7 linked regions of the Homo sapiens genome follow. The protein of the gene in region 4 purifies or fractionates together with the protein of the main gene of each other region. This does not show direct contact. Each region holds a gene or a part of one and is shown on either strand. Other genes may lie near its edges. The genes, in order: TSPAN5, CCDC86, DHX15, ATP1A1, NDRG2, DDX27 and DDX21.

Region 1 (3,500 bases), on a different chromosome or scaffold from region 4:
ACTGGCGTTTTTGGATTAATAAAAAATTCCATGAGGGATAAAATAGGCCACCTTTTTTTTCTCGTAAGCAAAGAACACTAGCTTCATGTGCTGGTGAAATGGTCACCGCTCTACACCACCCACGCCCAGCTCTCCCACACATCCCCTCCAGGGAGCAACGGGAAGGAGAGGCCACATCTTCCCAAGAAAAACAAGCTAAAGCTTCTCAAACTCAGCTGGGCATCACAATGACCTGCAGGAAGTTTTGATTTTTTTCTTAACAGAAATTCCAGGACCCCATCCTGGATGGACCTACTGAACCAGATCTCCCAGTGGGAAGACTGAAATTTCCTTACTAATCAGGCTGCCACACTACATGCATAAAGGGGTGAAATATCAACTAATCCTACAGAAGTGACCCCTAGTTAGTGAGAGGGACTTCCCATGCATGGAGAGATTCCAAGAGATAAAAACCCACACGAGGAGTAATTTTTTTAAAAATGTACTTTGGCCATCAAGATTCAAAGACATCTAAAGGCTAGAATACTGGTTCTTTTCTTTCTTAAGTGGTGGGACCCCTTTTTTCAAGCAAAATCTTTCTTAGTATCCCAAAATATCAAACTAATAACCAAGCTTTTCTGGAGGAAAGAGAGGTACTGCTCAGTCCACACCCCACCAGCACAGACCCACCCACCCACATACGCCTCAAGGAGGCCTAGGATTGCTGGTAGCAGGTTTGAAATCCAATGGGCCAGAATAAGACATTTAAATGGGAGAAATAAACAGAACTAAATCTAAATTCAAATAATTAACTGGAGGGTTAGGGCTTCTGATTAGCATATAGCTTAGGGGGATGGTTTAATAGAGTTCACTTGAAAAAGTGAAGGTTTTATTTCACTAAAAAGTCAATCCAAGCCAAAGTGTTCGTTGGCTGCCAGGGAAAGCAAGTGCAGTTTAGCCTGGGTTAATAACTAGTATTTGTATTTAGAGATTTACCATTTATGAAGCACGTTGATATGCATGATCTCACATAATACTGGATAACAACTTTGCAGAAAATTATTTTCCTGGTTTTTTTAGATGAGCAACTGAGGAACTAATCTGTGAAAGTAACTTACTCAAAGTCAATTCCAGACAGTAGCAGAGGCTTCTGCCACCAGGCACAGCACAGCCTAGGGACTGAAGGGAGAGTTCAAGAGCCTGCTGCTCTTCGGATGGTTAGAAAAGCCTGTGAACAACGTGTTTCATTCTGGTTGCTGCATTAATAGAGGTGTGTCCAAATGGGACCCTAGGCAGAGCACCGTGACCAGGGCAAAGAACAATCTGGAAACAGTATATGTAGACCTAACACTCTAAAACCGAACCCTGACATGCTCTTCAACATCTCAAAAGTTACTCCACATCTCTGTACTCCAATTTCTTCATCTGTCACAAAGATATAATATGTTTGGAAGACTCTTTGAGATGCTTACAAGAAAAACATCATTAGTGTAAACACATGGAGGAACTAGGAGCTTTTAAAGGTGGAAAACAGAATGTTTAGGAATGACATAATGGCTATTTTTAAATAATGAAGGACCATGGGGAAGGAAGATAAGTCTTATTTTACATCATTCAAGAGTAGCCGAGGCTCTTCGCCTTCTCCTTCCTGAAAATTCAAAGCCATTAGGTAGGTCCAATCTGGTAGGCTTCCTACGTTTACAAAAACGTAGGAAGAGGGATGCTGTGGAAGCCCAGAGCAGGGTATCTCAGGGAGAAAGGTATCCATATGGGGATGGGGGTGGTGGCACAGGATGCTAGAGCACTAACAGCTGAGGAGGGCAGCCCCAGGAGGAAAGGTGGTGGCAGCTGCAGAAGATTGGTTACATATGGGGAGATTTACCAAATAAGTAAACTGTTAAGAATAATGCGAACCAAGAATCTCACTGTCAAATAAAGCAGTTATAAAATATGGAGAGGAAAAACTAAACCCTGTGGTATCAGACAGGAATTTAAGGTATGACTGTAAACTCATGGTTTTAAAAGTACATAGATACAGAATTACAGATGTACATGTGTGTCTGTATATACACAGAGTAGCAACACCCTAATAGCAATGAGCACACCAAGCAACCAGATCTTGGCTTCTAAATTCCATTCTCCATTCAATAGCTCCTTGGAGAAATGTCTGATACAAAAGATGACACAGGTAAATCACAAAATGAGTTTGGAACATCTTATTCTGCCAGAGAGCAAGATGGTGCTCAAAGACTGATGGGAGTTAAAAGAGCACAGGAGCCAATGTGAAAAGACTGCACTGGCCAAACCTAGGGCCATTTTAAATAAAGTAATGACAGTAACATTAAACCACACTGAAAAAAGGAAGACACTAAGTTCTTACTGATATAAATAAATAACAGATTGAAAATTTGATGAGGAATAGGCTATTTACATGGTTTCAATGTAATTTGCCATAAAACATTTATAAATTACAAATGAGAAAAGAGTAACTATATGGTAGAGAAGCCTGGCAGACAACACCTTGATCAAGTGACCATCATCAGTAATGGGACAAACAGAAATCAATGCCACCCTGATAGGGTACAATGAGAACGCAGCACCATTTCTGTACTATTCCTACCAAAGATGCACAGCCTGAATCTAAGCTTGTGAAAATGGCACAAACACAAACTGAGGGACATTCTGCAAAATAACTGGCTTATAATTGTCAAAAGTATCAAGAGCATGATAGTGAAGGACTGAAAGAGACTAAAAACATGTAACTAAATACAAAGTGTGGTTCTGACCTGAATTCTTTTGCTTTAAAACATTATGGGAGCAACTGGGAAACTTGGATGAAATCTAAGGATTAAATGGTGTTAATGTATCATTGGTAATTTCCTGGCTTTCATGGTTGTACTGTGGTGATCTAGGAGAATAGTCCAGTTTACAGAAAATACATACTCAACTGTTTGTGTGATAGCCAACATGCTGGCAACTTTGTCTCAAACAGGATAAAAACAGGTTCTCTATACTACTTGCAATTTTCCTATTGGTTTAATGTTTCCAAATAAAAATTTTAAATGAACAGTAAATTAGGAGGATGGAAATGATGGGGAGACAGATAACATCTAGTTTGAACAGATGAAACTCTACAATTAAAGTGGTCCAAAAACAGATCCATGCTTAGAAAGGTAGGCACGATACAATGGAGAATGCTTCACTGACTAGGAAGTTAGAGGAGATGATTCCTACGTACTTTCTGATGATTTTGTAATTCTTTCCTTCAACATACTTTTTTTTTTTTTTTTTTTTTTTTTTGAGACAGGGTCTTGTTCTGTCACCCTGGAGTGCAGTTGCAGCCTCAACCTCCCAGGCTCAAGTGATCCTCCCACCTCAGCCTCCCAAGTGGCTGGGACTACAGGCACGCATCACCACACCCAGCTAATTTTTAATTTTTAATTTTTTTTTGTAGAGATAGGGTCTCACTATGTTACCCAGGCTGGTCTCAAACTCTTGGGCACAAGCCATCCTCCAGCCTC
Region 2 (3,234 bases), on a different chromosome or scaffold from region 4:
GGAAACAGTATCCAGGCAACAGGAAAGGGATGTTCAGAGGTATTGAGGCGGGAGCAAGCTCCCGTTTGAGAGGCTTTCCAGAGGTCTCGCTGCTGGAATGAGGGGGAGAAGGGGAACAGTAGGAGATGAGGTCAGAGAGACAGCAGGACCTGGTGACCCTTACAGGGACTCCCGGCTTTCCTGAGTGAGCTTGGGAGCCATGGAAGGGTGTCAAGCAAAGGAATGAAATGACCTGACTTGTGAGATCAGCCTGGCTACTGAACACAGACATAGGCGGGCAGGGGTGAAGGCAGGAAAACCCACAAGGAGGCTGTCTCAAGAGAACTAAAACAGCTTCCGAAGCTGCAGGCAAGTCTGTGGCGAGGGGCCCAGCAGGGCCACTGAATGGATGTTTGGGATCTTTGAGGGAGCAGCTTCGGTGGGTAGTAAGTGAGCCTGGAGATGGGTGGGAAGCAGCTCCTGCTGCAGGGAGGAAGACAGCCGCAGCTGGGAAAGTGTATGTGGTGAGGGAGACCTGGCTGCAGCCCTGTCTTCGTGCTCATGCCAAACGCCACTTTCTCCATAGTGCCCTTGGGCATGCTGTCTGCCTTCTCTGAGGAGTAGCATTTATGGAGCACCTATTACGTGTGTGTGTCGATTAAATCTCCCACCACCCTTTGGGTTAGGAATGATTCTCATCTCCACTGGACAGGATGCTGAGACTTAGAGAGGCTACCTTGCTCCAGGTCACCCAGGTTGGACTTGGAACCCAGGCCTGAGTTTCCTCAATACCCAGGTAGAACCAATGGTCTGGAACTGCCCTGCCTCAGTACCTTAGCCGCCAGCCACATGTGGCTATGTACATTTAAATTAATTAAAATTAAATAAAATTTAAGATTCAGTTTCTCTATCAACACCAACCACATTTCTAGCGCTCAGCAGCCACCCATGACTAGTGGCTACCTTATTGGACAGTGTCAATGTGGAATGTTTCCACCATCACAGAACGTTCTGTTTGACAGCCCTGCTCTACACAGATGCAGCACTGTGTCTTGTGGTTCTGTGTGTCTCTAGGCTCCCAACACCTTGTCCCTTCAGGGTTCTCGTACCCCAGCTTGGGAAGCCCAGCTTTACAGTTATGGGGGAAGTCCATGTGGCACCCCATTCTTAGTGCTTAGGAGGCCAGGCCTTCAGTGGCAAGGCCTTGGGAAGGGGAGAAGGAAATCAGGGAGCTGGGGCCAGAAGTCGGCAGGGCCAAGGGACACCAAAATGGGCCTTGAATCTTTAAAAGAGAAAGACCTAATTTCAGCATGTGGAGGCCACCGAGAGACTTCTTTGCATTTTGTTTTTACTTTTTTTGAATGGAAATTTTCAAGCATACAAAGAAAGAGCAAAGCTCTCAAGTCCCCATTATCAGCATCAACACAGCTCAGCATTTTACTAGTGTAGCTTCATCTTTGATACTTGGCTTTTTTTTCTTTTTTTCTTTTTTTTTGTTTTGAGACGGAGTTTCATTCTTGTTGCCCAGGCCAGAGTGCAATGGAGCAATCTCGGCTCACCGCAACCTCCGCCTCCTGGGTTCAAGCGATTCTCCTGCCTCAGCCTCCCAAGTAGCTGGGATTACAGGTGTGTGCCACCACACCCAGCTAATTTTGTATTTTTAGTAGAGACAGGGTTTCTCCATGTTGGTCAAGCTGGTCTCGAACTCCCGACCTTAGGTGATCGGCCCACCTCAGCCTCCCAAAGTGCTGGGATTACAGGCGTGAGCCACTGCGCCCGGCTGATCTTTGGCATTTTTTTTTCCCTGAAATATTTTAAAGTACATCCTAGACATATCATCCCATTCATAAATCCTTGTAGTATGCATTTTTACAGAGATGAGCTCAGTTCTCCTGTAACTCTAAAATCATCGTTGCTCTTTTCAGATTTCCCTGAGAGCCCTGATGCCCACTTCATCTCCAACTGGGGGAAGAGATTCTTTTTCTTTTTTCTTTTTTCTTTTTTTTTTTTGAGACAGAGTCTTGCTCTGTCACCCAGGCTGGAGTGCAGTGGCGCGATCTCGGCTCACTGCAACCTCCACCTCCCAGGTTCAAGCAATTGTTGTACCTCAGCCTCCCAAGTAGCTGGGACTATAGGCATACACCATCACACCCAGCTAATTTTTGTATTTTTAGTAGAAACTTTAGTAGGTTTTAGTAGGCTTAGTAGGTTTTGCCATGTTTGCCCGGCTGGTCTCCAACTCCTGGACTCACGTGGTCTGCCCACCTTGGCCTCCCAAAGTGCTGGGATTACAAGCATGACCACTGCATCCGGTCTTGGCGGGGAAGATCCTGAATCATTACCCAGAACTTTAACCACTCACACTGTTCTGAAATGGAATGGGCCACCTCCCTAGGGGGTGAGCGCCCCGCCTCCAGAGGCATTCACACCCGGGCCAAATGCACTTGGCGGAAGCAACAGAACTTTACAGCAGGGGCCGCGTAGCCTGGACTCTGCAGTCGCTGACAGGATTCAAGTCCTGACTGCCACAAGGTATCTTTAGGCAGCTATTTAACCTCTCCGCGCCTTGGCCTGCTCCTCTGTAAGTGGAGAGGATAGGAGTACCCACCTCAGAGGCATGTAGCCAAGGCTTGAGAAATGGCAGCCAGCACGATCAGGGTTCCCTCCCGCCCCAAGTTTCTGCAGCCCTGGAAGGCCGCCTGTCAGGCCAGCAAGGAGGTGGTTCTGCCTGGGCTCTGGGGAAGAAGGTCCAGAGCCTCCGGCCGAGAGGAGACAGGGCATGGGTGGCGCTTGCCCCACAGACCCTGTATGCACCCACTCTCCCCCTTTCAGATTCTCCCAGATGCTTCAGGACAAGCCCCTGCGCACATCGTGGCAGCGGAAGATGAAGGAACGACAGGAGAGGAAGCTGGCCAAGGACTTTGCCCGTCACCTGGAGGAGGAGAAGGAGAGGCGCCGCCAGGTGAGGGGCCAGCCAGGCTGAGGCTGGGGCTCAGAGGACTAAGCTAGTGTCTACTGGTACAGACCTGAGGCGAGGGCCTCCACGGGTGCCTGGGGGAGGCCGACTTGGTTAAAAAACGTTCTTGAATCTGAAGGCCGGAGGGAGGAAGGGCACCTGGCCAGAAGCAGAAGTGCAATCTGGGACTACAGGGCAGGGAGGCCCAGGGGACCATACAGTTTAGCCTGGGCTGCTGAAAGAGCCTCAGGGACAGGGACGGAGGGGGAGGACCAGAAGCGGGCCTTGGGGAGAAGCCC
Region 3 (3,500 bases), on a different chromosome or scaffold from region 4:
ATTACATATCAAATAAAATTAACAGGACTGTTAAAGATCAGCCACTAACTTTCACTGACACAAGGAATTTCAAGCCAGCAAATAAACTAGAAATATCATTTGATCTTCAATGGCCAATGCTTTAAAAAGGTAAATTAATATTTAAGGAACCAAAATTTTGTTTACACCACAACAGCAACTTCTTTCTCAACAAAGCTATTACTTCAGGTTATCACTCAACCGCATTACATTTTGCTTAATCAAATTAATGGACAGCATAAAAAGAAAAATACTGATGAAGCAATATAACGTGCCTTACAAAACGTCTGATAAAACAGCCCTTATAATTAGTATTCAAATTTCCACAAGTGTATATTTCAATGTTTTTGGGCAATATTTACAAATGAAAACTTCGTTATTTATATCACCAAAATTCAACTCAACATTTTAAACAAAATGCCACATGGAAAAAAACTCAAGTTATAATCCAGTAAGAATGGACAGATCAGCAGAATCAAATGTAAATATTTCGGTAAGTGCATGGTCTCAACGGGATGACATGTAATACGTTACTACATACAAAGCAACTGTTAAGAACTATAATTCTTTATTGACGGAAAATGTTTAAAGCATTTACATACTAATATGATAGCTTGTTTGGTATACGTGCATGTTTTACTATATATTACATATGTTTTAGAAAATTAGTTAAGGACTTGGGAAATACATGTTACATATAATTTTTTTTTAAACAATGGGAAATGGGGATTCCTCATTAGTATTTTAACTCAGGACATGATTTTCAGGAACAGGTTACTGATATTAAGTTGAAGATGTCTGTATATGCAAGCAATTGATACAGAAGATGAATCAAACAGAGTCTGCTTTTACCATTTGTAAGGGATGATTAGACATGGATAGAAAGTGTGAGTGGCACCAAAGACACACTGTGAAATTTAAAAAGGTTTACTTCCATAGCAAAGTCAAGAAAAGCTTTACTGAAAAATAATAGCATTTAGGACAGTCCTTGACGGTAAGGTTAAGACCTACTCATGAGAGAAGGAAACAGCACTAGCACTAAAGTTCCATCTTAAAAAAACACATGTGGGAGAAATGCCTATGGGCACATACAAAAAATGAAAAGATTTATATTTATCCCTATTTTATTTTAAAAACACTTAATTTTATAAATCAAATAGCTTTAAAAATCATAGGCTTTTGCTGCATTAACTATTTTACTTAATATTAACACTTTCATTTTCTGATTTCATATTTACTAAGTAGTAGACTTCCCAAAATACTAACAGGAAACCTCAGGGATTTAAAAACATAATAGCAATCTACCAAGAGGGTATTTCAGAATAATTTACAAGTCAAAAACCAAAATGTTTCCTTTTGTCAGTTGAAAAGACTGACAACTAGCAAAGGAATAAGAAACCACATGTGGTTTGATGATGTTGCTGAAATACATTCTTCAGGACATTTAGAAAAATAATCAGCAACTAGAACTGAAGCAAACAACGACATACATAAGGTTAACAGGTGAAACTTGAATAAGCATAACCGGCATTTAATATTCTAGAAAGTCAGTTTCTTGTAGTTAAAGAAGCGATGAATTTAGAGGTAACTGGCAGACCTAGCAATCAAACCTGAGTGGCTAAAGTAACTGGAAAGGTTTTAACACCCCCAAGCTTGTATTCCTTTTATAACTTGCATATTACTTAGTCTACATAACACAGGGTTGTAGGGAATAAATTATGTAAGGATGTGGAAATGCTCTATAAACTATACAGAATAGGCCAGGCATGGTGGCTCACATCCGTAATCCCAGCACTTAAAAAGGCCAAGGAGGATTATTTGAGTCCAGGAGTTTGAGACAAGCCTGGACAACATAGTAAAACCCCACCTCTACAAAAAAATAAAAGAAATTAGCCAGGCATGGTGGCACATGCTTGTAGTCCCAGCTACCGAGGAGGCTAAGGTGGGAGGACTGCTTGAGTCCAGGAGGTTCAGGTTGCAGTGAGCTATGATCATGGCACAGAACTCCACCCTAGGCAACAGACTGAGACCCTATCTCAAATCTATACAGAACCAACTACATGCCTGTAAATACAGAAGACGTCTTCTGGCTTTCTGGAATTCTGGGGTGAAAACCATAGTTCTGAAAATATTTATGAAGAAAATCACTTTTAAAAAAGTTGTTCTGGGAAAAAATACATTTCACATATTTCTTCTATAACATAATACAATGTGATAAAAATTTCTCATGTGACCAACTCTTTAGTTACCATTATAAAAAGTTAATTTTTCTCCACAAAATAATTTCATCCTGTGTGTATGTTTTTTGTCTGGGTGAGTGTATTAAATTCTGTAATACTTAACAATTCGCGGATACATGATTCTGCAAGTGTTTAAGAATCAAATGATTTATGCCAACTTGGCAAACCCTCGTCATTATTGATATTAGTAAGAGCCTATTGCCAGCCAAAAGTCAAACCCTAAAATACAAGTGTTAAATTGAGTCCTTAACAAAAAAGCACAAGTTTTAGGCCTTTCTCAAGGACTAAAAATAGCTAAGGCTAAATACACACACACACAATGCAAAAGCGAACTAATAAATGACAAGATAAAAGCTTCTTTGGTACTTCAGCAGTTGAGTGAGGCAAGCCCTAACCATGTTCTAATTGTAAATGGCACACCATACAACCAGGAACCCATCAGGAGACAAAATGACCTTGAATTTGTCAAGGGATTTACATTATGACCAGTAAGAATCAATATAATTGTTACATGCTTTCTAGACTGCAACACTGCAGTAAGCGTTCAAAGAGCCTTAAAAAGTGTTCAAACCGCATTGACTAATATGGAACAGACCCTATGGTGAAAAGCTTGGCATCACTGTCAGGACATGCTAAGAGTAAATTTTCCTCCCTCAATAACCTGCCTTCTAATAGAACTCACTTTTTTTCTAATAGAACCACTTCCCCCCACTCCGCCCCCAATAACTCCACTTCAAAGTAGAACTCGCAGTACTTCATTTGCCCTACCTGAATACTGTCTGGACACAATAATGCATTTAAACTAATTTGGACTTTTAGTCCCCAGGGAACTCTGTGGTGGTCTCCAACACAAGGACATCAACTTATTTGCTTATAAACATCCCAGCAGCACCACAGTAAGCTATCTTCAGATCCTGGATCATTAAGTCTTTCTTTAAAACTACAGGACCATCTCCACAAGGGCCATTTCTCTTTTTCACTGAGCAATGTATGCTCTGAACCATATTAATCAGCGAAATGTAGGATCAACTATAGAAAAGTCAGCTATTTGTATGAACAAAATTAATGAACACTAAATATTTAAAAAATAATTATAGTTGTATTTTAATAACAACCAAATCCACAAAATAGCAATTTTAAGTCTCAGTCAAAAAATGCAGAAGTTATCTACTGAAGAGTAAACTTGAATGCATGTAAAGAATTACTGTAACTTTTAACTTAGTCAAATACTTGAATAAACTT
Region 4 (3,500 bases):
CAGGGGGAAACACTCCTCCATATGTGCTCTCCCAGGCCTGCTGCAGTAATCAGCTGAAGGCTATACAGGTACCCTTGTGTGTGAGGTTCTAGTAATTGGGTTGTTTTCCCAACTTAGGAATGATCCAGGCCCTGGGAGGCTTCTTTACTTACTTTGTGATTCTGGCTGAGAACGGCTTCCTCCCAATTCACCTGTTGGGCCTCCGAGTGGACTGGGATGACCGCTGGATCAACGATGTGGAAGACAGCTACGGGCAGCAGTGGGTGAGTGGGCACCTCTGACCTGACCAGTGTCAGAGCTCCTCAAGCCCCAGAAGACTGAGGCCACACTGCCACCAGCCATGCAGGTGAAGAGCCAGAGCTCATCTTCTGTCTTCTGCATTTCAGACCTATGAGCAGAGGAAAATCGTGGAGTTCACCTGCCACACAGCCTTCTTCGTCAGTATCGTGGTGGTGCAGTGGGCCGACTTGGTCATCTGTAAGACCAGGAGGAATTCGGTCTTCCAGCAGGGGATGAAGTAAGTAATGAAGGACATGTCAAGGCCTTGGCTCAAAGAAGGGGACTGGTGATTTGTAAACCCTTTGCCAAAAACTAAACATATGACACATATAGCCAGGTTTCTGGAATCTCTAGTTTATAGAGCAAATTTAGGAAGCAAGAAATGTAGCTTTCTAGTTTTTTCATCTGACCTCCAAGTTTTCAAGTACAGCTAATACATAAAGATGTTGATCTGCCATTTTAATGCATAGCATTAGAAGATAAACCTTTATTTGCACCTTTTAAGTTTTTTCTCCCCTACTTTGATTTTAGGAACAAGATCTTGATATTTGGCCTCTTTGAAGAGACAGCCCTGGCTGCTTTCCTTTCCTACTGCCCTGGAATGGGTGTTGCTCTTAGGATGTATCCCCTCAAGTAAGTTGATCCTCTGGTAGCTCCAAAAAGTATGAAATAGTATGTGTGGCTTTTCCCCCCATTACTTGTGGTAATAGTTGTTATTTTCAGAATTTTGAGTGGTATGTACAAAAATTCCTATGGGTTGGAAAACTGTGAAAGCTTGACATGTCAGTAAATCAGACTAACAAATCCTGAGGCTTCCATGATAGCAGCTAGTGTTTAGGATTTGGCCCAAGATAAGATAAAGCCACACAGGCTCTAGCTCCATGGAACTGCTCAACAGCGAACTGCATTGAGCACTCAGGTCTGCCACAGCTGTAGTCCAGTTGTCTTTAGAGGCCAACTGGGGGTATGCTGGAGCGTAGGCGCCCAGGCTCAAATCTTGATTTGCTTGCTTAGTCACTGTCCCATTACAAGTCATCCACCTTTCTGAGACTCTGAATACTCTGCTCTCAAAGAAAGAAGGTTGGAGAAACAGATCTGAGGTCCCTTTTACTTTATAATCAGTCATGGGTAGAGTTGATCAAAGGAAGCATACTGCTAGTCTTTGGCCTTAAACACAGTGAATGACTCTGCATTTCAGATAAACTTGAATTTTCAAAGAGGGTTTATCACAAACTCCGTTAGTTTTTTGCAACATTGAGTATGTTTGGTGATACCTGGTTGAGGTTAAGCAACTGCAACTTGATTAAAACGTGCAAAGCCACAGATTGTGGGACCCATTTACAAGTTCCTTTGAAGCTTTTGATTTAAAGCATTAGTCTCCTTTGAATTCCTGCTGTCCTCATCCTTGCTCAGACCCGTCTGGACCATCTCTCAATCCCCTGTTGCCAGCACTTCCTTCAGCTCATCTTATCCCTAAAGTAACCAAAACCCATCAGCCTCATTCACTTCCTGTGGGTTATGTGCAGACATCGTCTGTGGTGCAAGATGAGACTGGCATCCAGAGTCAGTCTCATTGTCCCAACCTGTCTTTATAGCTTTCTCTTGTACCCCTTACCCATCCAAGCTCATGTTAGGTGAATTCGGCTTTCTTCCTCTGCCTTTGTGTTTGGTAAGATCCTTCCTCCCCACATCCCTCCTTCTGTTCCCTCTTACCCTGCCAATCCTGATAGTCCCTTCAGGGCCGGTTTCCTTGGAGCTTGTCCCTCCAGGGCCTGTGCACTTGCACCTCTTCTCTGGCATTACTTGTTGCTTGTCATTTCACCTCCCTGCTAGGTTTTAATCTAGAAGGCATGGGCCACAGTGTCTTTCTTCTCTGTGCATCCCCAGCTCCCTACACAAAGCTGGTGTACAGCAGGGGCCAGCCATCTCCAAATTGAATTCTGTCAGCTTGGGCCATTATGTATCAAGATGGGGCTTGGAGAGGTCACAGAGCTTTCCAAAAAGGCTGGTGGAAAATTACACTGAAAAGGGGGCATTTCCATCTTCTGGGTCCTTCCCTGGTTTTTTTGCCACCACCAAAGAGATTGTTCTGACAGGTTCTGCCCAATTTTGGAAGGTGGTTCAGTTATTCGGTGACTGAGTCAAATGAGATCATCTCTCTTAGCTGCCTTGTCAGACACACAGGAAGAAGAGGAGACCACCGGAGTCCTGCCCAGGGACAGCCTTTCTCACACCATAGCAGGGAGCTGGTGATCACGGAGGCTGCCTGGAGCCTGTCAGCAGGCTAGAGACTGTGTGGCTCAGCCTCCAGGCCCCTTGGAAGCCTTCGGGCTCAGCTTTTTTCAGTCCCCAGGACCAGGCCTCAGAACACAGAGCTGATATCCCAAATGCTGTTGTCAGAGATCAAATTTGGGGAATGCATAAACTGGTTTTGACCCACACTGGCAGGTCTTTATCTTCAAAATGCTGGGATATTAGGCAGATGGTCTTAAAAAGCTTCTTAAACACTTTAGAAATGAAAGAAAGAAAATGTTCAGTTGCTCTGGGATGGTTAACAGAAAAGTACTCTGCTCATCCTATAAACCAAGTCTTATGAAATCCAAACTGAAGATGAGTAGGGATTCCATTACAAAGTCTGCAGACTGATTTCCTCTGCGTCTCTAGGCCCTGGGCACATGGAGTAGCAATCTGTTTTAAGACATTTTTATTTGTTCTGTTAATGACTCAGTAGTTAACTGTGACTGTACTTGGCTTCTCCTTTCAGGCTGATTATTTCATTGTCACTGGTGATGTGCAATTTCTCTTTCTTTATTTGAACTGTGTTCGTGTGCATATAAATTGGTACCTTACTCTATTTCCAGACCTACCTGGTGGTTCTGTGCCTTCCCCTACTCTCTTCTCATCTTCGTATATGACGAAGTCAGAAAACTCATCATCAGGCGACGCCCTGGCGGTAATTATGGGCATTCTGACTTTGGTTGGAGGAGGAGTGGGAGGGGCTATAGTTCTATTGGTTTTTTGTTTCCCTCAAGGTGTCTAGGCTCCCTCAGTGGTCAGTCTGATTAGCTAAGGTGACTGGACCAGCAAACTGACCATAGTCACATCTTCAGAATGTAGATCTCAGTTACAGTTTGAGGACTGGTCATGTTTTAGACTTTAAAATACAAACCAAGTATGATTTAGTGAAAACTTGTCAGAATCTAAACCATCTTTCCAGGTAA
Region 5 (2,895 bases), on a different chromosome or scaffold from region 4:
GTAAGAGTTAGGTCGTTACTGCTTCACCAGACTGTGAGGAACAGGACAGGTGCGGGAAAGGTTCGACTGGGGAGGAGGAAAGGGAGGGCAGTGGTTATTCTGGGAGAGAATGAGTAGGACATCCTGAGGTGGGGGGTGTGAGGGCAGGTTGGTATCTTCCTTAACATGCCTCTCTTTTCCAGATATCAGTACCCATCTCTGGACCAGCTTGCAGACATGATCCCTTGCGTCCTGCAGTACCTAAAGTGAGAGGCCTGGGAACCCCTCCAAACCAGAGTTCTCTTTCCAGCACAAGGAGACCCTTAGAACTTCCAGGTTCACCGTGGTTCCTGAGCCAGTTTCAGCTTCTGAACTCAATATATCTTCTTCCTTCATGCTCCCGCCTTGATTATTGAGAAAAGGTGGTGGGTTTGGAAAATTGGCCAGAGTCAACAGAATAGCCCTAATGGGTGGAGGGAAGGAAAAGGGTCTATGCTTGGCCCTGCCTCAGGCTAAGGAGGGCCTTCTCTGATCAGAAAGTCAGGGAGGAATGAAAGGGGGTGACATAATCCCTGAGGAACCAGATAGACCTGTCTCTTTCTCTCCCACTCCCCTCTCCTTCATGCCCACACCTGGTGGATGGGGAGCTCTGCGGGTGAGAGAGAGTTGGGGAAGGAAGAGAACACCAGACCAAGTGTCTTTGGTATTCAGAGGGAGGTGCTGGCCCCTGGGTGCTGTTCTTAGCTAAGCTTCTCCTAGGCACCAGGGCTCAGCAGCTCTGGTTCACCACTTTGCCACTCTTTTCCTCATTCTCTCCATTGTTCACTAAAATTGTGTCTGTTTTCACATTTGCTTTAAGTTCCATTCTTCCCGTTCCTCTAGAGGAACCAGGAACTAAAGCAGAACAAGTTGAACTGGCTCTTGAAAATTGAGAATGGACAAAGAGCTATCTATATGGGAAAACAGTGTGTTGGTTGGCTGGTGGATGGGTGTTTGTTTTTAAGACACTAGCTCTCCAGCAGAAAGCTGGGGATAGACTTCAGGTATCTACCCTGACTACCCGTGCCAACCTTTGGCTTCTTGGGCCCTTCTTTTTCGCGTCCTCCAAAGAAAGGTCCGTGTCTGCCTTTCTTTGTGCCCGTGGACTCAGGAGGGAGGGTGAAGAGTTTGAAGAGATGGGCTGTGGCAGGTTTTGGACAGCAGATCCCATGAGGCGTATATTTCTTTCCCTTTCACAGTTTCTCTACAATAATTGGAGTTGGTGTTGGAGCTGGAGCCTACATCCTGGCGAGATATGCTGTAAGAAATAAAAAGCCCAGAGGAGGGAAAGGAGGGTCCAGACTGATTAGGAGAATACTGTTTATTAGTGCTGTTTGGGGGAGGAAGTGGGCACTAGGTGGGGAGTCAGGCCCTGTGGGAGTCCAGGAGTGGGTCGAGCTTAGCGGGGAGGGGATAAGGCCATGCCCTGTTTCTCATTTCCTTCCTTCTGCTGTCCCTCAGCTTAACCACCCGGACACTGTTGAAGGTCTTGTCCTCATCAACATTGATCCCAATGCCAAGGGTTGGATGGATTGGGCAGCCCACAAGGTTTGGAGGGGCCTGTGTGCTGAGACCTACGGTTGGGGATCCCCTCGTATGGATCCAGTTAGGCTCTGGTAGATAGCCTAACTGGATGGACTCTGAACTTCAAGGAGGGAGTAAAGGGGCAGGAAAGTGAAGCTGTCACTTTGCCTGAGTCTCTTATAATATCCTGAACTTTCTTTTTCTTTTTCTTTTTTTTTTTTTTTTTGAGATGGTGTCTCACTCTGTTGCCAAGGCTGGAGTGCAGTGGCTTGATCTTGGCTCACTGCAACCTCTGCTTCCTGGGTTCAAGTGATTCTCCTGCCTCAGCCTCCCAAGTAGCTGGGATTACAGGCACCCGCCACCACGCCTGGCTAATATTTGTATTATTAGTAGAGATGGGGTTTCACCATCTTGGCCAGGGTGGTCTTGAACTCCTGACCTCGTGATCCACCCGCCTCGGCCTCCCAAAGTGCTGGGATTACAGACGTGAGCCACTGTGCCTGGCCAATACCCTGAACTTTCTCACCTGCCTTCTCCTCATAGCTAACAGGCCTCACCTCTTCCATTCCGGAGATGATCCTTGGACATCTTTTCAGCCAGGTAAGTGGGTGTAGGAGATGTAGAAGAGTCGACGGGAGCAGCAGGGAACTTGAATGCTTGGGCTAACTTCCTTAGCTGGGACAGGATTTGGGGAAGGAAGAAGGCTTACCTCTTTTCCTCCAGTAATTGTTGTTTTCTCTTTCCATCCCTAATTTTTCTCCTTGTTCTCTCCTTCAGGAAGAGCTCTCTGGAAATTCTGAGTTGATACAAAAGTACAGAAATATCATTACACATGCACCCAACCTGGATAACATTGAATTGTACTGGAACAGCTACAACAAGTGGGTGGGCTGTGTGTGTATGCATGTGAGAGAAATGCAGAAGCAGTAATTGGGCGTCATGGGGGAGGCACAGAGGAGGAGAGGGAAGTCTGGGTAGTGTGCAATGTGCAAGGAATGCAGCATTTAGTGTGCAATGGGGGCAGCTTCAGGACAGAGTCAGTGGGAAGGATTGCAAGGGGCTGTCCCCCTTCTCTTGTTTACCTCCTTTGGATTATTGGACTCCCAGAAGTAAGATGATCTTGTGTCCTGTGTCCTTCCTCCCCTTTTGTTGCCCTCTGACCAGGGATCTAGGGCACAAGTGACTATAGGGGCTGTGCTTGGGGCCTGCCTGCCCCTTTCTCCTTTGGTTTCCACCTTTAATAACCAAGATTTGACCGTAATTTTTAGACAAAGATAGTTCCATCATGGGAGAGATAGCTTATATCTGGTTAGATAGCATTGCCCACCTAAAATTCCTACTCTTTTAACCCCT
Region 6 (3,500 bases), on a different chromosome or scaffold from region 4:
AAGGATGAACCTTGAAAATCTTAAGCTGAATGAAATAATCCAGACACAAAGGGACAAATACTGTCTGATTTCACTTACCTGAGATATCTAGCTAGGCAAATTCACAGAGACAGAAATAGATTATAGATTACTTAGGGCTAGGGGAAGGGGGGTTATAGGAAATTATTAGTGGTTGCAGAGCTTCTGTTTTCAATGATGTCAGTGAGTAGCCTCCTGATAGGAGTTTTGGAAACAGATAGTGGTGATGGTTGTACAATGTTGTGAATGTAAGTAATGCCACTGAATTGTATACTTAAGATTGGGTAAAATGGCAGCCTTTGTTTTATATGTGTATATATAACCACAATAAAAATAATTTTAAAAAAGTTAGGAGATATTTAATACAGATTTCCTCTCCATCTCCCTTTAAAAAAGACCCAAAACACTTATAAGTTCACATTGTTCTATGCCTCGCCTTTTCACTTAATTTTGAAGCTTAGAGATATGTTTTATATAGGCCCACATATGCTGCCCTTTTTGTTTTTTGTTTTCAGACGGAGTCTTGCTCTGTCACTGAGGCTGGAGTGCAGTGGCGCAATCTCGGCTCACTGCAAGCTCTGCCTCCTGGGTTCACCCCATTCTCCTGCCTCAGCCTCCTGAGTAGCTGGGACTACAGGTGCCTGCCACCGCACCTGGGTAATTTTTTGTATTTTTAGTAGAGATGGGATTTCACCGTGTTAGCCAGGATGGTCTCGATCTCCTGACCTCGTGATCCGCCTGCCTTGGCCTCCCAAAGTGCTGGGATTACAGGTGTGAGCCACTGCACTCGGCCCCCTTTTTGTTTTTTTTAATGGCTTCATGTTCTTCCATCATATGAGTAGATTGTTGAGGGACATTGAGGTTGTTTACAATCATTTGTCATCCAGCCTGGGCAGCATGGCAAAACCCCATCTCTACTAAAAATCAAAAAATTAGCCAGACATGGTGGTGCATGCCTATAGTCCAACTACTTGAGAGGCTGAGGTAGGAGGATCACCTGAGCCTGGGGAGGTCAAGGTTGCAGTGAGCTAAGATTCTGCCACTGAACTGCAGCCTGGGCGGCAGAATGAGACCCCGACTCAAACCACCACCACCAACAACAAAAAACCCAAAAAATAATCATTTGTCATTACAAACAAGTGATGTAGGGAATAACCTTGCACATATGCCCTTTTACAATTAAGCAAGTGTATATTTGGCTTGCAGGATTAATTCCTAAAAGTGGAATAGTGGGTCAGAGGATATTTGTATTTCTAGTTTTGTTAGAGGTTGCAAAATTTCCCTCCTAGAGGGTATACCAGCAGTTTTAGAAATGCTGTCTATATTTGATGGGACAAAATAAGGGTGTATATAACTTAAATTTCTGATAAAAATAGAGTTATAACTGTATTGGTGGGTAAAGTAGTAAAGTGACCTAAATCTTCATCCTTCATAGCAGGAGGTTTGTAATGAGTATCTTAAGTGGATTGAGAAATAGTCAAAAAAGCATGTTATTTAGTGAGATGGAGGTAATCAGTGGAAGAAGTGCTTGCGGCTTTTCTTTTCTTTTTTTTTTTTGAGGCAGGGTCTCGCTCTGTCGCCCAGGCTGGAGTGCAGTGGCGCGATCTCAGCTCACTGCAGCCTCCCCTTCCTAAGTTCAAGCAATTCTCTCACCTCAGCCTCCCAAGTAGCTGGGATTACAGGTGCACCACCATGCCCAGCTAATTTTTGTATTTTTAGTAGTCGGGGTTTCACCATGTTGGCCATGCTGATCCCAAACTCCTGACCTCAGGTGATCCACCCACCTCAGCCTCCCAAAGTGCTGAGACTACAGGCACGAGCTACTGCACTCGGCCAAGAAGTGCTTGCCGCTTTTCATTTTAATCTGCTAACTTACCAATTGAAAACGTGCACTTCTTATCGTAAGCTTAAAAAAAGATAAAATCATCCCTGAAATCTTATGCTTTCTTCTCATCCCAGTTGCCAAAGCTCTGCAGGAATTTGACTTGGCCTTAAGAGGAAAGAAGAAAAGGAAGAAGTTTATGAAGGATGCCAAAAAAAAGGGGGAGATGACAGTGAGTGGCCTCCCTTTTGGAGTTTGGGCCCACTCGGTGGGGTGGGTCAGAGTGGCCTGGTGTGTTCCACACTCACACCTCCCCACTCCCCCTAGGCAGAGGAAAGGTCTCAGTTTGAAATCCTCAAGGCGCAGATGTTTGCTGAACGGCTAGCGAAGAGGAATCGCAGAGCCAAGCGGGCCCGAGCAATGCCCGAGGAGGAGCCAGTGAGAGGTCCTGGTAGGTGAATGGGGAGCCCAAAGGAGCTTGTACAAGGTTTTCCCTGAAACCTGTGCTTTGGGTCAGGGAGAAAATCTGAGGGATGATGACAGTAGCCCACATTATTTGAGTAATTAGTATGTACCAATGTGTACAGCTATCCCTCCACGGTCTAAGGGGCGCAGTGACCTTGTGGTTGTTGAGAACTAGGATTTGAACGCCAGCTTTTCTGACTCCGGAGCCTAAGGCCTCACCAGCTGCTACTTGGAGGAGCTGGTGAGGACAGAATGAAAATAGTCTTTGGATGCCAGAGTATCCACTGAACTTGGAATCATTACCTTGAACTTAAGGGGATTTAGGAGCTTGGGCCAAAGACAACCATATGTAACCCATTCTCTCTGTGCACAGCCAAGAAGCAAAAGCAGGGGAAGAAATCTGTATTTGATGAAGAACTCACCAACACAAGCAAGAAGGCCCTGAAACAGTATCGAGCTGGGTAGGATTTTAAGTCATCATGGAGCCCTTGGTATTCTTTTTTTTTTTTTTTTTTTTTTTGAGACGGAGTCTCGCTCTGTCGCCCAGGGTGGAGTGCAGTGGTGCATCTTAGCTCACTGCAAGCTCCACCTCCTGGGTTCAAGCAATTCTCCTGCCTCAGTCTCCCAAGAAGCTGGGACTATAGGCGCACGCCACCATGCCCAACTAATTTTTGTATTTTTAGTAGAGATGGGGTTTCACCATGTTTGCCAGGATGGTCTCGATCTCTTGACCTCCTGATCCACCCGCCTCAGCCTCCCAAAGTGCTGGGATTACAGGCTTGAGCCACCGTGCCCGGCGAGCCCTTGGTATTCTAATGGAAGCTATGAGTCTTCTGCCTCCTTCCCCATTTCCAGTTTTTGCACACCTATAGCTTTATACTATGTAAATTCAAGGGTACCTGTCTGTTCTCCACCCCCCACCCCTCTCAGAGCCACCTGAGGATCCCAAGGTGAGAACAGGAGAGGGGTGTTCAGTTAGCACTGTTCCTGCCTTGGAGGTGAAATAGTACATTGTTGGGTTCAGAAATGGAGCTTTCCTTCAGGGGAGTGATAACTCTTTCATCTCAAGTTCCATCCTGCAGAACCCCAGAGAATCCTGGCTTGCTCTTAGGAATATGTTGTCCCACACCATTTTCCCCAGCCCAAGGTTGGGGCAGGGGCAGACTAAGCTTCCCAAGTAGTGGTATATACCTAA
Region 7 (3,500 bases), on a different chromosome or scaffold from region 4:
CACCATTAGTCAATACACTTCTGAATACACACTGTATTAAATACAATTTTTTTTGAGACAGGGTTTCATTCTGTCACCCAGGCTGGCGTGCAGTGGTGTGACCACAGTTCACTGAAGCCTTGAACTCCTGGGCTCAAGCGATCTTCCTTCCTCAGCCTCTGGAGTAGTTAGGACTATAGATGTGTGTTACCACGTGCCCAGCTAATTTTTAAACTTTTTGTCGGGACAGGTTCTCACTATGTTACCCAGGAAGATCTCAAACTCCTGGCCTCAATCAATTACAGGTGTGAGCCACCACAGAGGGCCTGAAAAAGCTTTAACCACTTGTTTAAGAAGCATGAAGAACCATCACTACTATAGTACTAAATTGAATACACAGGCCTACTTCATTATATGACTGCATATATCAGCCTACAATAAGAATACATCCTGGTTCATCTTAACAAAAATAGTGGAGTGCTTCTGTTAAAATAATACGTTCTAACATCATACGATATTTCCAAGAACATTACCTTTGAGAAGTTTAATAGTTTCTTCAGATATGGGAAAATTAGAGAAAGCGCCTTCTTTTTGTTCCACAGGTATTTCCTATCAAGTAAAGGGCCATAGAAAGAAATCAATAATCACCTACACAAATTAATAGAGAACCTTCTGAGAAAGAGACAAAACAAGCTATCCTAAAGCAATTCTTCTAAACACATCACTTTAAAAATCAACCAAAAAGATACAAAAACCTTGATAGGTAACTCGAGATCTGAAAAGGAAACATTGTCATAAATCTATAAAACTTTAACAAAAGAAAAATCTGAGGCAAATATATACTGGGTAACTAGATCTCAACTAAGATCTCAACTAAGATTATGTGTGACTAGATCTCAACTAAGATCTACTCCATAACCATAATCAACAATATACTGATGGAAATGTCATTAGCCCTCTTCCAAAGCAGCATCTCTTGTATACACACATCCATAGAAAATGAACAAACATTTTATGAGGTAGCAGTCACTGTGGCATTATTTGATAGTAAGATATCTGAATGCTCAATACAAGTAGTAAGTAGATTTCAAGACATTTATATGAAGGATTATGTAACCATTAAGCGTACTTAACGAGGAAAATGCTTAGCTAGAAACAAAAAAGATACAAGATTGCACAGTACAATCCTAATCTGATTAAAAATAATAGATGCATATACTAAAAGTACTACAAGGAAACACCAAAAATTAACAAGATGACTTCTGTACTTGAAAAGTACAGGTATTAATATTTACTAAATGAATGGTGAAATTCCAGGAAGCATTTCTTTCTTTTTGCAAAATGTCTGCATTTTCTATTTTCTCTGGATCACATATTTTTTATAATCAGGAAAAAAGTTACAAATGTTGACCATGATCTATAGCAAAAAGAAAATCTATTAGAATTAGTATTTTTCAGCTGGGTGTGGTGGCTTGTGCCTGTAATCCCAGCTACTCGGGAGGCTTAGGCGGGATTATCGCTTGAAGCCACAAGTTCTAGACCAGCCTGGGCCACACAGCGAGATCCCATGTCTAAAACAAATTTTTTTAATACAATTCGTATTTCTTTCATAACTGAGTTTCTGAAAGATAACAGAATTAGGTTCTGGACAGACATTTTATCATCCTGTTCAACTCCAGGATGATTACTTAATGGCCTAACCAAAAGGACTTATGCAATCAACCTTTTCAGTAATTCCAATAATTTATTTGGTTAAACCCCTCAGAGGGAAACTAGGGCCCATTTACAAAACTGTATCTCTTCTGTTGACTGACTTGCAAATAAGCAGACCAAGACTCTCCCTAAGCTTAAGCAGTATCTGCTTATTTGTAAAGGAGGCATTGTGACACTATGCTAATTTTTTTTTTTTTTTTTTTAAAGACAGAGTCCGCTGGGAACAGTAGCTCATGCCTGTAATCCCAACACTTTGGGAGGCCCAGGCGGGCAGATCACCTGGGGTTGGGAGTTCGAGACCAGCCTGGCCAACATGGTGAAAGCCCGCCTCTACTAAAAATACAAAAAATTAGCCAGGCGTGATAGCACACACCCGTAATCCCACCTACTGAGGAGGCTAAGGTAGGAGAATCACTTGAACCCAGGAGGCAGAGGTTGCAGTGAGCTGAGATCGTGCCACTGTACTCCAGCCTAGGTGACAGAGCGAGACTCTGTCTCAAAAAAATAAAAAAATAAAAAAGACAGAGTACTCTTAGCTGAGCCACCATGCCCTGTCGTATGCTAATTTTTAAGATGAAGTCCCAGTCAGCCTAAGGTATCCCCCAACCCACAAGGTGCTGACACATCACATTTTCTCCTACTATTAAAGAGTACATATAGCAGTTACCTACTTATTTATCTGAAACAACAATGAAAGATATCTTCTACCCAATGAAGTGCAAATGTACCTGCTCTATCTCACTGTTACTTTCTTCACTGGCAGCTTCACTGGGGTTACAGTCCGGTTCAGGATGAGGAAATCCATTCTTCAGTTTGGGGCTTTTCTCTCTAGTTTCTCCATTCATTTCCTTTTCTTTCTTCATCTTCTTGGGCTTAGGAGCATCTATTTCTTCCTCAGAAGGCTCCTCATTTTTTGTCACTTTTTTGGTTTTAGAAGAAACCACTTTCTTTTCAATGGGCTCCTTTTTCTTTCTCAAACTTTTGGTTTTAGGAGAAATGTCATTTTGAGATGGCTCCTCTTTCTTTTTTGCCTTTTTGGATTTAGGAGAATTCATGTCAACTTCAGAAGGCTCTGCTTTCTTTTTAACTTGTTTAGCTTTGGGGAAAACAGTTTCTTCCTCTTCTGCTATCTCTTCAGTCTTATCAGATTTTGGCTTCTCTTTTTTCTCTTTCTAAAAAAAATTCATAAGGAAAATACAAACACTGAATAAGGCATTTATACATTTGCAACATTCATCAATTCTGGATTATTTCAAGATCATTTTCAACTTTAAAAAATACAATTTTGGGGCATTTCGACATTTGTACTTTCATGCTGTGATAAGGTAAAAATCAAAATAGTAAGCTTTTTCTAAAATCGCTTCTTAGCTATATATATAGACGGGTATATATCAATAGTTTCACTATCTTGGAAAATGAAGAGTGCCCCTTAGTAACTATTCAACTCATGTGGGTCAAACAGTTGTAAAACAGATTTTCTTTTTTGAGACAGAGTCTCGCTCTGTCGCCCAGGCTGTAGTGAAGTGGCACAATCTCAGCTCACTGAAACCTCCACTCCTGAGTTCAAGTTATTCTCATGCCTCAGCCTCCCGAGTACCTGGGACTACAGGCGCCCACCACCACACCCAGCGAATTTTTGTATTTTTAGTAGAGGTGGGGTTTTCCCATGTTGCCCAGGCTGGTCTCAAACTCCTGAGCTCAGGCAACCCACCCACTCCGGCCTCCCAAACTGCTAGGATTACATGAGCCACCGTGCTTGGCCTATAAACCAGATTTTCATAAGGGATTTGGATAAGCTCATGGGATAC

What was found.
Region 1: the proteins of ATP1A1 (region 4) and TSPAN5 purify together in Homo sapiens (co-immunoprecipitation; one large-scale study listed by IntAct). This does not show direct contact.
Region 2: the proteins of ATP1A1 (region 4) and CCDC86 purify together in Homo sapiens (affinity purification with mass spectrometry, with the first as the bait; one large-scale study listed by BioGRID). This does not show direct contact.
Region 3: the proteins of ATP1A1 (region 4) and DHX15 purify together in Homo sapiens (affinity purification with mass spectrometry, with the first as the bait; one large-scale study listed by BioGRID). This does not show direct contact.
Region 5: the proteins of ATP1A1 (region 4) and NDRG2 purify together in Homo sapiens (affinity purification with mass spectrometry; one large-scale study listed by BioGRID and IntAct). This does not show direct contact.
Region 6: the proteins of ATP1A1 (region 4) and DDX27 purify together in Homo sapiens (affinity purification with mass spectrometry, with the first as the bait; one large-scale study listed by BioGRID). This does not show direct contact.
Region 7: the proteins of ATP1A1 (region 4) and DDX21 purify together in Homo sapiens (affinity purification with mass spectrometry, with the first as the bait; one large-scale study listed by BioGRID). This does not show direct contact.

Annotation. Positions count from the first base shown.
Region 1 is NC_000004.12:98,648,612-98,652,111, forward strand, and holds part of TSPAN5 (tetraspanin-5), read right to left. Parts: intron 1-3,500. UniProt on the Homo sapiens protein: Part of TspanC8 subgroup, composed of 6 members that interact with the transmembrane metalloprotease ADAM10.
Region 2 is NC_000011.10:60,845,113-60,848,346, forward strand, and holds part of CCDC86 (coiled-coil domain-containing protein 86), read left to right. Parts: intron 1-2,811; coding exon 2,812-2,941; intron 2,942-3,234.
Region 3 is NC_000004.12:24,543,055-24,546,554, forward strand, and holds part of DHX15 (ATP-dependent RNA helicase DHX15), read right to left. Parts: intron 1-3,500.
Region 4 is NC_000001.11:116,400,744-116,404,243, forward strand, and holds part of ATP1A1 (sodium/potassium-transporting ATPase subunit alpha-1), read left to right. Parts: intron 1-117; coding exon 118-263; exon of another isoform or gene 264-386; coding exon 387-517; intron 518-810; coding exon 811-912; intron 913-3,140; coding exon 3,141-3,232; intron 3,233-3,500. UniProt on the Homo sapiens protein: This is the catalytic component of the active enzyme, which catalyzes the hydrolysis of ATP coupled with the exchange of sodium and potassium ions across the plasma membrane.
Region 5 is NC_000014.9:21,019,167-21,022,061, reverse strand, and holds part of NDRG2 (protein NDRG2), read left to right. Parts: intron 1-182; coding exon 183-245; intron 246-1,217; coding exon 1,218-1,278; intron 1,279-1,479; coding exon 1,480-1,566; intron 1,567-2,085; coding exon 2,086-2,142; intron 2,143-2,319; coding exon 2,320-2,423; intron 2,424-2,895. UniProt on the Homo sapiens protein: Contributes to the regulation of the Wnt signaling pathway. Down-regulates CTNNB1-mediated transcriptional activation of target genes, such as CCND1, and may thereby act as tumor suppressor. May be involved in dendritic cell and neuron differentiation.
Region 6 is NC_000020.11:49,239,916-49,243,415, forward strand, and holds part of DDX27 (probable ATP-dependent RNA helicase DDX27), read left to right. Parts: intron 1-1,977; coding exon 1,978-2,072; intron 2,073-2,167; coding exon 2,168-2,291; intron 2,292-2,678; coding exon 2,679-2,766; intron 2,767-3,500. UniProt on the Homo sapiens protein: Probable ATP-dependent RNA helicase. Component of the nucleolar ribosomal RNA (rRNA) processing machinery that regulates 3' end formation of ribosomal 47S rRNA.
Region 7 is NC_000010.11:68,959,170-68,962,669, reverse strand, and holds part of DDX21 (nucleolar RNA helicase 2), read right to left. Parts: intron 2,865-3,500; coding exon 2,421-2,864; intron 589-2,420; coding exon 513-588; intron 1-512.